Regions from separate parts of the Homo sapiens genome. Here region 1 is linked to region 2. Evidence: fine-mapped expression QTL. A gene starts in region 2. The other region holds a variant in brackets. All regions are shown on one strand. Distances are from middle to middle. Region 1 overlaps KCNN3 (potassium calcium-activated channel subfamily N member 3). Region 2 holds the start of PMVK (phosphomevalonate kinase).

Region 1 (8,303 bases), 160 kb after region 2:
GCACCCAGCCCCACCTGGGAGTCAGAAGGGACCAGCTTAGGCCTGTGGAAGGGTGGGACGCTGGATCTGGAGGTCTCTGGTGAAGAAGCTGAGAAGAGGGAGTGCTTGTACAGAAGATGGAAGGGCGCAAGCTTAGGGGTTACTGGTAACTTGGTTTAGCTGGGATGAGACACCGGGTGTGGCAGGTGATGGGGATAGAGGGGCCAGCTGGTGCCAGGTGGGAAAAGGCCCTTTTGGCCAAGTGCAGCTAGGAGGGTGGACACTCTGGGTTGCCACGGAAAGGTTCTAGAAGGGGAGGTGACATGATTTGGTTTGTATTTTAGAACATTTGCTCTGGCAGCAATGTAAAGATGGCTGGGGTGGAGCACATGATGAGACCAAGGTGTGGCCACAGCAACCCAAGGATTGGCCGGGGTCACTTGGCCTTACTGCTTCAAATATAATTGGTTACAAACTCCCACCCCACACAGGAGGGGACCCGGTGTCTTTCCACTGGTCTCTGGGGGCTTGGAAACTTCCATTTCTCTCTTGACAGCTCATCTGATGCCAAACTCTTTCTGCTGAATTCTCCACCTCCATCCTGTACTTAGTAACCGCTTTAGGCACCCTTCCTGTTCCTGTTGCTCCTCGAGGGACCCATGACCAAGGCCTCTAGGTTAGCTGACATTTCCATGGATCTGGAGCAAGGGGAAGGGGTGAGGTGGTGGTGGCACAACAGATAAGACAGCGCTGAACGCCACATGCTCCTGATCTTACAGTCTCAGCACTGTCCCTGTCTCATGGGTGGTCAAGTCCTCAGTGGGCTCCGGCCTCCCCCTCTCATGGGACTGGCCCAAGGTGCTGCTTAGCCAGCTCCCCTCTCCTTCCAGTCCCACAGCTCACAATCCCCCATCTCCAGTGTTCCTGTTCATTTCTAGGGCACATATATTAAGCCCTGTGTTGGTCTCCTCTGACCCCACCCCAAGCCTGTCCAGAGGAATCTTCTTCATTAGCAAACATGCTGGGGTGCATAAGTGGGCTCCTAAACTAAGATGGTCTCTTCCTCGCTAGGGACCCCATCACCAGGTCTCCATAGAGGCCTGTTCACTGGCGGGAAGAGGAGGAAGGGAAAGATGATAAATGGATATTGTATCTGTGGAAATGAAAGCCGTGGTCTTAGTTCCACAAACATAGCCCAGTCTAGATTACAGATAACGATGTGGGTTTCCCAGGTGGTGTGGACACCAGGGATAGAACCCAGTTTATTTTAATCATATATTGATTCTCTGGTCAGCAAAGATTCTTCTGAGAATGAGCATTTAAAGGGTGGGCTTGAGTTTTCTTTCTTTTCTTTTTTCTTTTTTTTTTTTTGAGATGGAGTCTCGTTCTGTCACCCAGGCTGGAGTACAGTGGTGCGATCTCGACTCACTGCAAGCTCTGCCTCCCGGGTTCAGGCCATTCTCCTGCCTCAGCCTCCCGAGTAGCTGGGACTACAGGCGCCCACCACCACGCCCGGCTAGTTTTTTTGTATTTTTAGTAGAGATGGGGTTTCACCGTGTTAGCCAGGATGTTCTCAATCTCCTGACCTCATGATCCGCCCGCCTCGGCCTGCCAAAGCGCTGGGATTACAGGCGTGAGCCTCCGCGCCCAGCCGAGTTTTCTTTAGAAGACAAAGTAAAGCCCAAACTGGCCAGCCCCCAAATAGAGTGCCTGCTTAGCAGGCTGGCAGGTGAAAGGGCGTGGGACTTGGAAGACACAGAATGCTGCAAGCCCCAGGCAATTGATTGAACCTGTCTTGGTTTGGGTTTCTTCATCTGCTAAATGGATGTATGACTCCCTTACAGGGACATTATGAGATGGCAATGAAATGGTATGTGCAGAATCACCTGGCTCGGCCCACAGTCTGGCTTTTGGGTAATTTTGACACAAAAGGGAATAGCTATGAACTGAATTGTGTCTCCCCAAAACGCATTTGTTGAGGCCCTAACCTCCAATGTAACTGCCTTGGAGAAAGGGTCTGTGGGAGGTAATTAAGTTTAAATAAGGTCATAAGGATGAGGTCTAGTCCTATAGGACTGCAGCTCTAGGAGAAGAGAAAAAGAGAGATCCCTCTCCCTTTCTCTGCCATGTGAGGACACAGTGAGATGGCAGCCACCTGCAAGCCGGGAAGAGAGCCTGACCGTGTTGGCACCCTGATCTCAGACTTCCAGCCTCCAGAACTGTGAAAAAATACATTTCTGTTTTTTGAGTTACCCAGTCTATGATATTTTGTTTCGGAGGCCCGAGCTGTGGTGCATATTTAACCTGTGGGCAGTGTGTTTTCAGAAAGTGGTGACATGGTGCACATGGCCCTGGTGGGAGTGGGTCTGTGGTCTCCTGTCCTTTGAGGAAGCTCCTTCTGTGACATCCAAGGTCCCAATGATCTGGGTCCTGCTACCTTCTTGGTCTCACCTGGTATCATCCCTCACTTCTTTCTCACATTGGTCTTCTTTCTTTTATCTCTCCAACTCTCTAAGCTCCATCCTGCCTTGGGGTTTTTGCACATGCTGTCCCCTCTGTAATGCATACCTTTGCAAGGCTCACTTTGGATTCAGAGGTCCCTTCCATAGAGAGCCCTCCCTGTCCTGGCTGTCTGGGACTTCTCTCATTTCCTTTGCCCTGTCTTATTCTCTTCCTGGCAGGCATCACTCTCTAAAATTAAATGGTTTACCTGTTTAATATCTGTTTTCCTCCCCTGAAATGTAAGCTCTGTGGGGACAGGGGCCTTGTCTACTTGTCTTGCTATATCCCTAGAGCTTACCAAGGACTGTCACATAATGGGGGCTCAACTCATGCTCAATGAATGAATGAGTGAATAAGCTGATCGGGGCAAAGCTCCCTGCCTGTGCATCGAGCACCTCTTGAACCAGACCCCAAACACTTGATTTCCAGCATCACACCTTGTCTCTCCTTACAACTAGAGACCAGCTGGTCCATCCAAAGGATTTCCAGTCAAAGGGTTCTATGGAGAGCATGGGGTCCACTACAGAGACCTAGGCTGGAGGAGGAGGTGAGTGAGTTGATCTTTGAATGTTCTTCTCTACCCTTTCAACTACAACAGCTCTGAATTTGTCTGTTTCCCATGTTGGGCGTACATGAAAAATCTTATGAAAGAAATGGCCCCACAGCCCAGAGAAAATGGAAAACCACAAATTGCATCCAAGTCTTCACATTACACTGAGGAATCTGAGGTCCAGAGACTTGCCACACACAGATGGCCAGAGGTGGGATGCTCTATCCCTAGTGGTGACGTGCTCAGGGATCAAGAAATTCCTGCTACGTGAGTAAAAAATAGTGGCTCGCTCAAATGCCGAAACTTGGCTTTCTTTCTCTGAGAACTGAGGACAGGGGAAAGGATTTATGATCACCACTGGTCTCTGTTAGTCCCAAACAAACTTCAGACTCCATAACCCCCATGAGTGGTCATTACACACTGCAAGAGACCAAAAGTGAGCTCTGGCGAAGCGCTCAGGAGAAGCCTATCCTGGCCGGACCAAAGAGCCACTGTGGGACATCACACATGGCCCAGGGAGTGGGATGGTTTCAGATGAGG[A/G]CAATTTCTTCTTAGACACAGAGCGGGGTAGCGTGGACCCCAACGCCCTAAGCATCTTGTTTATGGTAGAATCATAGACTTCCCTGACAAGGCCTGTTCACTGGCTGGCCTCTTTTAGAGCCACCATTTTTCCACCTTTGCTTCCCAACCCCCACCCGCCTCCCTTTCTTCCTCTAGTTCCATGGAGCATTTGCTGACTGGTAATTTTACCAACCATTGCTGCAAACCCAGAAGTTCATTTCGTCACTGGCAATCAGCTCCTGTCCTCAGGGAAACCTAATTAGGTACTACAGGATTTTTGATGTTGCTTCCATGGTAACCCCCGTAGTAATGGTGTACATGCAGAATATATGCTCCAGGGTGTTTAAATTTATATATGTATATATATATATATAAAATATAAAACATATATATAAATAATATATCTTAAGAAAATCTGTAATTTTTTCTTCTTGCTTTGTTTCTGTGTCGTTTTTTTAAATGATGGAAATTTTCCCGGAAGTTCTTCTCCCCACAGAGAGAGAACAGTACACAAAAAGGCTTTTTCCATTTTCTCTCCTTTAATTTAGAGAAATTCACAGTTGTGCAAGAGTGAAAGTTTTTCAGGTTGGTCAGAAAGTGTCTAAGCAGGAATACGCTCTCCTCCCTGATAGCTGAGAACATTTTAATGACAGATTTTGCTTAAATAAAAAATCAGAAAGGTCTCAAGTCTTTCAAAATAGAATGGGGGGAAAAACGAGTGAATCCAATGAATCGACTCTAAACTTATCCTAAAAAAAAAAAAAAAAAAAAAAAAAGAAAAAAAGAAAAAAGGCAAGCTTCCCTGCATGCCTACCCCTTTGCAGGAAATGTGGGGAGGCCTCGCAAGTCTGAAGCTCGGGCTGTGCCATGTGGCTGCTGGAGGCACTGGGTAGTGTCCTTGTCTCCTTGTCAAGGCAGCCTGTCCCAGGCCCTGCAGAGATTGCAGCTGAACGGCCCTGTCCTGAGGTGTCCAGATGGCCTTCAGCGTTGGCCTTGTGGTGAGCTGGTGATGACATCTTTGCTTGGCGAGACACTCTAACCAGGGAAAGGTCAGACCTGGACTCCCTGAGGTGCAGGTGACAAGGGAGAGGGCCTGTGACACACCCACAGCTGAAAGCCAAGGGCTTCTGAAGAATCCCTGAATAACTGAAAGTGCTTTCTGTACTATCCCTCGCTGGCCGTCCAAGGATGGAATGCCATGCTGACCTCTTTGTTAGCTGCCAGCGAATCCATTTACCCTCAGCATTTGCCAACAAGGTCCACTGCTCCCAGACTCCCTGCTGTTTTTCTCCAGCGGCCCCCCTGCCCATTAATTCTGTTGTGCCCTTGTTCCCTGATTCAGTCTACCAGCTGACTTCCTCACATCTGAGAAAACACTTTGTATGCAAAACAACTAAACTGCTTGCAAAATAACTTTTTAAATGCTCTGAGTTATTCTTTGATATCTCAAATCATGTGTCCATGGGGAGAGTGGGGATGGGGGAATGGCCATCAAGGAATGGCCCTTGACCCTGATCTCCTCCCCATCCAGTCACCCAGTTACTTGAGAAGGACTGGCCAGCAAATATAACTGAGTGGAGTGGGAAGGTGGGGACGGGTGAGGGTTCCTGCTAGGGGCTGTGGCATAAGAATCTAAAAGGAAAATGTTGGGCACAGTAGGCACATGACCTGGCTTTTCTAATATGTGCCAAATATAAGAATTAGTTTTGTTATATATTAGTTTTGTTGCATAACAAAGCACCTCAAAACATAATGGCTTAAAATAATAATTTAGGTCACGTTTCTGTGGGTCAGTCATTTGGGCTGGGCTCAGCTTGGTGGTTCTTCTGCTGGTCTCACCTTGGGTGAGCTTCTGTCATGCAGCTGGTCTAGGACGGCTTCTGATGGCTGGCAGCTGGTACTGGCTGCAGGCTGGGGTGAAAGGGATAGTGAGGCCATGTGTCTATAGTGAGCCTCATGGCGATGACATTTTTTAAACCTCTGCTGTATCACACTTTTTAATGTTCCACTGGCCAAAGCAAGGTACATGGCTAAGTTCAGACGGAAGGGATTGAGAAATAGGCTGTACTGGCCAGGCGTGGTGGCTCATACGTGTAATCCCAGCACTTTGGGAGGCCAAGGTGGGTGGATCACTGGAGGTCAGGAGTTCGAGACCAGCCTGGCCAACATGGTGAAACCCCATCTCTACTAAAAATACAAAAATTAGCCAAGTGTGGTTGTGGGTGCCTGTTATCCCAGTTACTCAGGAGGCTGAGGCAGGAGAATCGCTTGAACCCGGGAGGCAGATGGTGCCATTGCACTCCAGCCTGGGTGACAGGAGTGAAACTCTGTCTCAAAAAAAAAAAAAAAAAAAAAAAAAGAGACAGAGAGAGAGGGAGAGAGAAATAGGCTGTACTTCTTGATTGGAAGAGAGGCAAAGTCACATGTACAGAAGTAAGTGAATGGGATGGGAGGAATCTGTGGCCTTTTCTGCAAGCTGCCCCCTCTGGTGTGTCTGATGCATGCCTTCCGGGCGCTGCTGAAGCCCTATGTAACCCAAGAAGCTTTTCAAATTGCATCCTAATCATGCATGTCTTTTGCTAGAACTACTTGAGATTGTGCACTGATTCATGGGACATGTGTTTGATTCAGATTTATATACCCACAATGGCCTAACCTTGTTGATTCTTAATAATTATTATATTGAACTGAGTTGGGTTAGTTCTCCTTTTTCTCTAATTACAAGCTCCTTAAAGGAAAGTTTGGAATCACTGTTGCATAAAATCTCCCTCCCAGAGCTCTCAGAATTATACTAACGGCTGAAAATCCGGCAAGTTCTCAGAACCACCAGTTAAGTGGTAGAGGGATTAGGCCTAGAGCCACCTCTGGACAGAGCAACTATCTGAGGAAAGAATGGAATTTTCAGGAAACCAGAGACTGTGGTACTGACACATTGCATCTTCAGGTCAGTCATACCCTCAATGAGTGAAATCACTTTTTTAGGCTTAGGAGGCAGAAAGAGTCAGTGACTCGAAGAATGTGGCTTTCCTTTTCCCATTCAGGGAAGCCAGAGTACAAGGAGCAAACCTATGCCTCATCAGGAAGAGACTCGTTTGTCAGCCCTGGGCCTCTGTGGCTTCTCCTGCTCTGGAACAGGCCAGAACAGACCACTTGAGGGCCCACGGTACTCCCTGCCCCATGCCACACTCTGTCCACATCACCTCAGTACTTCTCCAGAATCCATCAGAGGCCAACAGTCAAGCTGGTCTAGAATCAGGGCTGGATGACTGAGACTAAGCCCTAGGGGAGGATAGTCCTTTGTGGAGCCACATACACACTCCCCGAGCCCCTCTGGTCCAGTGCTACTCAAGATCCTGGTTCCAGACTTGCTCTAGAACTTTCTAAGGCTTGGAGGTCACCTGGGACAGTTTATTCCAGGTTGAACCACCCTTTGGGAATAAGAGGGTGTCCCTTCCCATGGTGTGAGATGAATTGTCAGGTCCTTTGTGAGTCACAGGCTTAGGAATGGATTTTCAACAGGAATTTCCATTCTGGGTGGTTAACAAGGGCCACAGGCAATCTGTCCTTTTCTTCATATGACACAGTCATCCGCCTACACACCCCTTTATTCACCAAGATTCTACTGACTGCCCACTCTGTGCCAGGCAACGTCTCAGGCATGGGAGTGGGGTGAGATGAGCCAGGCACGGTTCCTGTCCCTGGAGAGCTCAGGTGCACCGAGAACACAGATGAGGCAGGAGGTGCGAGCAAGAGGGTCTGTGTAGAACCACAGAATTATGGCTTCTTAGAGCAGGAGGTACCTTGGGGATTGTCTAGTCTATTCCCTCATTCCTCAGAGGAGGACGCTGAGCCCAAGAGAGGGAAGATTAGTCCAGGGGCACGCAGTAAGTGGGAGTTACTAATTCACTAAATAAGCATTTATTGAACACCTACTAAGTGCTAAGATCTGGGCTAGGCTCTGGAGATGCCACAGGGAACAAGGAAGACACAGCGCTTGTCTCTTTGGAGCTCCAACTGTGACTGGTTGGGGGGTCCCAACCCTGGTTACATTTTAGACTCACCTGGGAGCCTTAAGAAGAACACCCGTGCCAGGGCTCCACCCCCAGAGATTCTGATTACTTGGCCTGGGGTGGGCCTGGGCCTGGGCATGGGTATTTTTGAACAAGCCCTCCAAGTCATTCTAATGTGCGACGCAAGTAGGTTGAGAACCATGTCTAAGGGGAGAGACAGCAAAACCTCACACATGCAAATCAATAATTGGGATTGTGCTTTGTTAGGAATGAATGGGACCCAGAGTGAGGAAACAGCAGGGTTGGGGTATCTGCTACTTGCTCTGAATCGGGAGGGAGCGAGGCCACACTTGGAGAGCTGTGATTCCAAGGGTCAGAAGGAAGGAAGCATAGAGTGTCCTCACGTGGGACAGCAATGGGATCTTCTGGGACACATCCCACCCTGCAGATGCAGAAAACCTTGCAGCGGAGCCCTGTCTAGCAGAAGCTTTTAACCTGCAGCCTGAAAACTCTCCCCCACCCCCTACTCAAAACACCCGCTCTTTACACACACTGTTTACGAGTGCCCCCAGGCCAGCCAGCTTAATAATCCCTCACATTTTTAGAGCAGTGAGTAAAGCACTGTCCAACTTTTTATCTGTATTATTGGATCCTAACACTAACCCCAGGAGGCAGGCAGGGCCAAGGTCAGTCAGTGTTCC
Region 2 (8,311 bases):
AGGCTGAGATGGGAGGTTGGCTTGAGGCCAGGAGTTCGAGACCAGCCTGGGAAACATAGCAAGACCTTATCTCTACTAAAAATTAAAAAAAAAAAAAAAAGTTTAACTCAGCATGGTGGCACACACCTGTAGTCCCAGCTACTCAGCAGGCTGAAGGTGGAAGGATTGCTTGAGCCCAGGACATCAAGGCTGCAGTGAGCTTATGATCCGCCACTGCACTTCCAGCCTGGGCACAGAGTGAGACCCTGTCTCAAAAAAAGAAAAGAAACAAGCCATGGCTGTCATCTAGGTGGATCATTAACTTTTCTTTCTTTTTTTTTTTTTTTTTTGAGATGGAGTCTCGCTCTGTTGTTCAGGCTGGAGTGCAGTGGCGTGATCTCTGATCTCCGCTCACTGCAAGCTCCACCTCCTGGGTTCACGCCATTCTCCTGCCTCAGCCTCCCGAGTGTAGCTGGGACTACAGGTGCCTGCCACCACGCTTGGCTGTTTTGTTTTTTTTTTTTTGTATTTTTAGTAGAAATGGGGTTTCACCGTGTTACCCAGGATGGTCTCGATCTCCTGACCTCGTGATCTGCCCGCCTCGGCCTTCCAAAGTGCTGGGATTACAGGCATGAGCCACTGCACCGGGCCACATTTAACTTTTTTCCCCTGGGTTGTGGAAGGCAGGCAGAGCATGTTATATAATGTAACCAGTTCCACCAGCTAGTGGACTTGGGAGGGAAGTGCTACTTTGGGGAGTATTTGAGCAAGTGACCTTGGAGGGTTGGGTGGATGAGCATGTGAGTTTGCAGGTTGAGCAGCTTCTGGTGATGACAAAGCCCAGGGTGTGTCCATAGGAGCTGGCCTCTGAGGAGGAGAGGGGGGAAAAGGCTTTGAACAGCCAGGGCCAAGGGATTGAGCAGCGGGGTGTTGGATGGGCTGGCCATGACCGTGATGTCACCGAGGATGATGACAGCAACTCTGTAGAAAAGGAGACTGGGAGCCAGTGGCTGAGTCTCAGAAAATGAGAATGAGGCTGGGTGCAGTGGCTTACACTGGTAATCCCGGCACTTTTGGAGGCTGAGGCCAGAGAGGACTGCTTGAGCCCAGGAATTCCAGACTAGCCTGGCCAACATAGCAAGACCCCGTCTGCATAAAGAAACAAAAGAAAATGAAAATGAACCACCAGGATTGCTGGGCTGCCAGTACTGAGGAAAGCAGGAGGGTAGCGCAGGCAGGTGGCATGAGCCTTAGAGGAACCATAGTTTTCCAAGAGGCAGGATGAGTAATGGTGTGGAAATTAAAATGGGGAGGAAGGGAGGCCATAGACTCAAAGCGGATGCTGAGGGATGAGGGCTGGGAGACTAAAGCCTCCACTTGAGACACCAGTAAGGGACAGTGGAGTTCAGTTGAGGCATACTAGGAAGCCTAGTATGGGGGAAGTTTTTTTTTATTTTTTGAGACGGAGTCTTTTTCTGTTGTCCAGGCTGGAGCGCAGTGGTACAATCTTGGCTCACTGCAACCTCTGCCTCCCAGGTTCAAGTGTTCTCATGCCTCAGCCTCCTGAGTAGCTGGATTGCAGGTGCCCGCCACCACGTCCAGCTATCCAGCTAATTTTTGTATTTTTAGTAGAGATGGGGTTTCACCATGCTGGCCAGGCTGGTCTCGAACTCCTGCCCTCAGGTGATCCGCCTTGGCCTCCCAAAGTGCGGAGATTACAGGCGTGAGCCTGGGGGAAGTTTTCTGATCGCTCACTAGGTATTCAGGGAGCTGGATCTCAGAGTCAGAGAGGGAGGTAAGGGGCGTGCATTGGGTCAGGTGAGGAAAGAGACTCCGGGAGTAAGTTCTGACTCCTTCCATGTGACTCAGGTAAAACAGGAGATGTGGACTTTCCGTGGAGGCCCAAATACATGTTTATTGAAGATGAGCTGGAAAATCTGATTCTGTGTTGAATGACGAAGTGCTAAGAATAAATAACAACCCCTTACATCTGGATGATACTTGAGAACTTACAAAGTATTTTATTGTACCTTGTCATATATTTTCTTCATTCCTTTCTTATTATAACCCTGGGAAGTGGGCCTTATCAGTGGTAAACTCAGAGTGACTTGCTAAGTGTCCAAGCTGGGACTGAAAATCCACTCTGTGCTGCCTTCTAGGGCGTTGATGAGTGCAGTGTTTTCTGGGTTGCTGAAAAAAAACAAAAAAAACCCCAAAAAACAAAAAACCACCTCCTTAAGTCTGTTCTTTTTGCATCTGACCACTCTCCTGTGCCTCTTTTCAACATTCAGGAAATTAATGGTTTCTCCCTAAGTCTCCACACTACACTTTTTCTCTAGTGGAGGCAGTAATGAGTTGCAGGCTCTGTTCTGACATGCTCAGAAAAATGCAGGACGGCAAGTCATAGCCAAAAACAACTCGACGTACTCAGCTGGGGCAACCCGTCACCTACTGCGGGAAGAGGCAGAACCGGGGATGCAGGGAAAGGACAGATTATTCTTATCCTGCCTCTCAAACTTCTGGCTGGGAGCCAGACTTCGGATGAAACCAGGCAATCTCATCTAGGGATTCAACGCTCCCTTACTATTGATGTCACCCACGCCGTTTGCTTCCGAAAACCTTTGGGCCGGAGGCTGCGGCTAGAAAAGCAATCAAAGGTTTCTCGCCGGGCTTAAAGGGCCACATCTTAGTGACGTCTCGGGTTATAAAATCTGCTTGACAATGAAATATCGTGTGCGCGATTCTGCTCCTCCCCCGACATGACGTGGCCAGACACGCCGCTCGCGTCAGGGCTGCCTTACGCCCCCAGGAAGACCCATTCCCACTCTGGGGCGCGCGCAGATTTGCTGTGGCACATGTACTATAACGCACAGGCAAAAGGGCAGTTTCCAAAACGTCTCCAACGTGATCTCACTCCAGAGATTTTTTTTCCTAAAGTTTTAGGGCTGCGCGGAAGGGAACATGGGGTTCACCTCAGGAAATTTCAGACGTCACCCCCCTCGGAGGAAGGTAGTCGCGTCCGGTTCCTCCCCGGGTGTCAGTTAAGCAGGCCAGGCTGTGAGCGAAGGTTCTGGGCGGGGCTGGACTGTTCTAAGTGAGTTCGGGTGGGGGAGCTTCACGAGGGGAGGCTGCTCTGTGAAGGAACCGCCTTTCTCTCCGCGTGTCTCACCCTTTTCTCCCCATATCTGTTTGGACATGAGCTGAGGGCACGGTCGCGGGCGGTCAGCCCTGTTCGCAGCTACGGCGAGGAGGGGCGCGATTGTTCCTTGTTGCCGCTCCGCTTAGTGGCCGCGTCCATTCCGCGCGGTGTCCCGATTTTAGGGGTAGGGAGAAGTGTCAGCTTCAGGCATCGCGAGGCGTGGCGGCCCCATGGCCCCGCTGGGAGGCGCCCCGCGGCTGGTACTGCTGTTCAGCGGCAAGAGGAAATCCGGGAAGGACTTCGTGACCGAGGCGCTGCAGAGCAGGTGTCCGTGAGGCGGGAAAGGTGGAAGGGGGAGCTCTCCGCATCACGTGACACGAGGAGTGCTTTTGGGTGTCACGGAGTGAGCTTTGGAGTACGGGTCGTCCGTTTGCAAGGCAGGAGGAGCACTGGGCTGGGGAAGGTGGAATGCCACCATTACATAAAACAGTAGTCTACACAGGCGAGCCTCAAAGAAGCAGGTGACCACCTCTCCAAAGACCTTCAGCTGCAGGTCTCTCTGAGAAGCATTAATAATGGTTCCTACGAAGGCACTTTCTATATACCAGGCGTTGGATACCAGCCTGGGCAACATGGCGAGACCCCGCCTCTACGAAAAATCCAAAAAGTAGCTGGGCGTGGTGACGCGTGCCTGTGGTCCCAGCTATTCAGGAGCCTGAGGTAGAAGAATCGCTTGAGCCCGGGAGGCGGAGGTTGCAGTGAGGCGAGATTGGCCACTGCACTCCAGCCTGGGCGACAGAGCGAGACCCTGTCTTAAAAAAACAAAACAAAAAACCCTCTTCACCTCTTTGTTAGGTACTGTGTGCCATTATTAGCATCTCCATTTCACAGGTGAAGAAACTGAGGCTCTTAAAAAGTTAAACAGGCCGGGTGTGGTGGTCATGTCTGTCACCCCAGCACTTTGGGAGACAGAGGTGCGAGGATGGCTTGAGAGCCCAGTAGTGGAGACCAGCCTGGGCAACACAGTAAGACCCTAGTCTCTACAAAAAAATGGAAAAGTTAGCCTAGTGCGATGGCGAGCACCTCTAGTCCAAGCTACTCAGGAGGCTGAGGTGGGAGGATCGCTTGAACCTGGGGGCTACAGTGAATTGTAATCATGCTACTGTCCTCCAGTCCTTGCAGCAGAGCCTGAGACCCTGTCTCGAAGTAAAATAAAATAAAATAACATACGAAGTTAACAACAAAAAACCCTTGCTGGTCACAAAGTAAGTGGCAAATCCAGGATTCAAATTCAGCTTTGTGGTTCATGATGGGCATCTCAGCAATTAATATATAATTGAAACAAAAAGAAAAAAAACCCAAACAAATTCAACTTTATCTTGCGCCAAGGACTGGTTTCTTTCTGTTTTATCTGGCTGCCTCCCCAAATAATAATACCTTTTGCACAGTGTTTTCTGTCAAAGCAAGATCTTCTGTGCAGGAGCATTTTGCTGAGACCTGGGCTAGGAGAGCAGAGGTTGGGGAGAAAGTGGGGCTCCTCTCCTCTTGAAGGCCAGTGTGGTGGGGGTACCAGGAAGCTGCTTTTGGGTACCACGGGGGTTCTATGAAGGTGTGGGAGAGCCCAGAGCAGAGGTCACCACCTGAATTTTTCATCACTAAGTATCTCACCACCTTTTCCTAAGTTGCATTTCTCCTCACCTCCAAACCCTGACGTCAAATAGTGGTCCGAAGCACAGGCTCTGGAATTAGACTGCTGGGATGCAAACCCTGGCTCACTGTTGATTAGTGTGTGATCTTGTACACATCTGTCATTCACTCTGTGCCTCATGTTTTTTTTTTTTTTTTTTTTTTTTTTTTGAGACGGAGTCTTGCTCTGTCACCCAGGCTGGAGCGCACCCAGGTTGCGGCTCACCGCAACCTCTGTCTCCTGGGTTCAAGCGATTTTCCTGTCTCAGCCTCCCGAGTAGCTGGGATTACAGGTGTGTGCCACCATGCCCAGCTAACTTTTGTATTTTTAGTAGAGACAGGTTTCACCATGTTGGCCAGGCTGGTCTGGAACTCCTGACCTCAGGTGATCTGCCTGCCTCGGCCTCCCAGAGTGCTGGGATTACAGACGTGAACCACCACCGCACCTGGCCTGCGTCTCAGTTTTGTCATCTGTAAAATGGGGATGATAATAGGGTGGTTGTGGGGATTAAATGAGATAATGTGTGTGAAGGGCTTAGAATAATTATTGGCACCTAGCAGAGGTGCAGGAACTAAATGTTGGCTATATTTATTTTACCAATCTTGGCTTCACTACTTGCAGTGTTGCTTTGGGGGAGTCAATCCTCCTTTCACAACCTCAGCTTCCTCATCTGAAACATGAAAATAAGAACACTTACAGCCAGGGCAACATAGTGAGACCCCCTCTCTACAAAAGATAAAAAAAATTAGCTGGGTATGGTGGTGCATGCCAGTAATCCCAGATACTCAGGAGGCTGAGGTGCGAGGATTGCCTGAGCCCAGGAGTTCAAGATTGTAGTGAGCTGTGATCATACCACTGCACTCTAGCCTGGGTGACAGCAAGACCCTGACTCTTAAAAAACCAAACCAAAACAAAACAAAGAACACTTATCGTTGGGCGCAGTGGCTCACGCCTGTAATCCTAGCACTTTGAGAGGCCGAGAAGGGTGGATCACTTGAGCTCAGGAGTTCGAGACCAGCCTGACCAACATGGTAAAACCCTTCTCTACTAAAAATACAAAAATTAGTGGGACGTGGTGGCGCCGGCCTGTAGTCCCAGTTACTTGGGAGGCTGAGGCAGGAGAATAGCTTAAACCCAGGAGGTGCAGGTTGCAGTGACCTGAGATTGCACCACTGCATTCCAGCCTGGGCTACAGAGTGAGACTCAGTCTCAAAAACAGCACTTATCTTCCTGTGCGTTAAGTGTATTGTGAGCATCTCAAGGCTAGGACAGGAAGCATGTATCATTCACATTTGTATCACCTAGATCCAAATATGGTACCCAATAAATGGTTGGTTAAGCCAGGAGGCAGAGGTTGTGGTGAGACGAGATGGTGCCACTGTACTCCAGCCTGGACGACAGAGTGAGACTCTGTCTCAAAAAAGAGAAAAAAAGAAGGGCCGTGTGCGGTGGCTCACGTCTGTAATCCCAGCACTTTGCGAGGCTGAGGCGGGCGGATCACGAGATCAGGAGTTTGAGACCAGCCTGGCCAACATGGCAAAACCCCGTCTGTACTAAAAATACAAAAATTAGCCGGGTGTAGTGGCGGGCGCCTGTAATCCCAGCTACTTGGGAGGCCGAGGCAGGAGAATCGCTCAAACCTGGGAGGCGGAGATTGCAGTGAGCCGAGATCGCGCCATTGCACTCCAGCCTGGGTGGTGGAGCAAGACTCCGTCTCAAAAAAAAAAAAAAAAAAAAAGGTTGGTTAAGTAAATTAAATAACGAATGAGTTATTTTTATTTTTATTTTCATTTTTGAGATGGATTTTCACTCTTGTTGCCCAGGCTGGAGTGCAATGGGGCGATCTCGGCTCACTGCAACTTCCACCTCCTGGGTTCAGGTGATTCTCCTGCCTCAGCCTCCCGAGTAGCTGGGATTACAGGCATGCGCCATCATGTCCGGCTAATTTTATGCTTTTAGTAGAGACAGGGTTTCACCGTGTTGGTCAGGCTGGTCTCAAACTCCTGACCTCAGGTGATCTGCTGCCTCAGCCTTCCAAAGTACTGGGATTACAGGCGTGAGCCACCACACCTGGCTTTTGTTTCAGTTTTTTAAATTTGCTTTTCTTATTTCATTTTTATGAGACAGGGTCTCACTCTGTCTCCCAGGCTGGCATACAGTGGTACAATCATGGCTCACTGTAGCCTGGAACTCCTGGGCTCAGGAATGCTCCCACCTCAGCCTCTGGAGTAGCTGGGAGTACAGGCACATGCTGCCATGCTCAGCTAATTTTTAAATTTTTTGGTGGAGATGGTATCTCTGGGTCTTATTGTGTTGCCCAGGCTGGTCTTGAACTCCTGGCCTCAAGCACTCCTCCTGCCTTGGCCTCCCAAAGTATTGGGATTACAGGTGTGAGCCACCATGCCCAACCAGTGAATTAATAAATGATATATGTTATGGTGACCAAGTCAGTGGAGACAGATACCTCTGGCTATGAGAGAATTAGTTTAGGGTCTGGGCAATAACCTAATCCAGCTAGAATATTGTGCGCCTGTTCACACTGTAATTAGCACTTTATAGGTTTTACCTGTTAGTTTCAGGGCTCTTTTATATTCTTTAGAGTTTCATAATAATCCTGTGTGGGAGACAGAACAGAAAGTGTTATCCCCATTTTCTGATGAGGAAACAGGATCAGGGACATTGAGACCTACCAAAGTTACATAATACCAGTAGTAGAAATGGGACTTCAACACAGGCCTCTTGACTCCCTTTCTGGGACATGGAAGCTCCTGGAAATTCTAGGCTAACTGGATTCTGATCTCCCTGTCCTGCAGACTTGGAGCTGATGTCTGTGCTGTCCTCCGGCTCTCTGGTCCACTCAAGGAACAGTATGCTCAGGTAGGTGGTGCTTTGTGGCATCCGGTGTGTTGGGCGGGGCCGGCTCCAGGACTTTGGAGCTGTGGCTGCTGCCTGAGTCACTGGCATGATTCCCGTCACCACTGCTGGCAGGGTGGTGGCCAGCTCTTGGTTTTCTGTGAGTGGACCTTTCGGGGGCATTTTCAGCTTATATTTCTTTCCTAATAGCCTCCCTCCCTTCAGAGTGAGTTCAGGAAGGTGTGCCCAGGAAAGGCTGTCGACACTCGAGTTGGCAGCTCTGATGCTGTGTGATTAGTAAGGACCTGCCTGTGCCTCCTCACACCACCCTCTCACTCAGCTGGCCTGACACAGCCCCTAGAACTTTGCTCCTAGAAATTTAGTACAGGCCGAGCACGGTGGCACATGCCTGTAATCCCAGCACTTTGGGAGGCCGAGGCAGGTAGATTGCTTGAGTCCAGGAGTTAGAGACCAGCCTGGCCAACATGGTGAAACCCCATCTCCGTTTCTTTAAAAAAAATTTTTTTTAAAGTAAACAACAACACACAAAAAAGAAATTTAGTCCCAGAAGTTGTCAAAATATATCATTAAGTGAAAAAAAAAAAAAGCCAATACCAAGATATAGAACAGTGTGTAGAGAATGCTACATTTGT

Evidence for each region. PIP is the estimated chance that this variant, and not a neighbour inherited with it, causes the effect. A credible set is the group of variants that fine-mapping cannot tell apart.
Region 1: its variant is the best candidate, but not a certain one, in a credible set for the expression of PMVK in prefrontal cortex (ROSMAP, PIP 0.89).

Annotation. Positions count from the first base shown.
Region 1 is chr1:154,776,260-154,784,562 of GRCh38, reverse strand. All of the region lies in intron 2 of KCNN3 (potassium calcium-activated channel subfamily N member 3), which reads left to right. Among named protein-coding and RNA genes, the nearest start is that of KCNN3, 90 kb to the left of the region's middle. The variant A/G (reference allele first, on the strand shown) is at 3,572.
Region 2 is chr1:154,931,723-154,940,033 of GRCh38, reverse strand. It overlaps PMVK (phosphomevalonate kinase), which reads left to right and starts at 3,315. Exons shown (of 5, transcript NM_006556.4): 1 at 3,315-3,443; 2 at 7,619-7,682. The coding sequence starts at 3,349. RefSeq lists enhancers at 1,925-2,866, 2,846-3,045, 2,867-3,809 and a silencer at 3,766-3,865.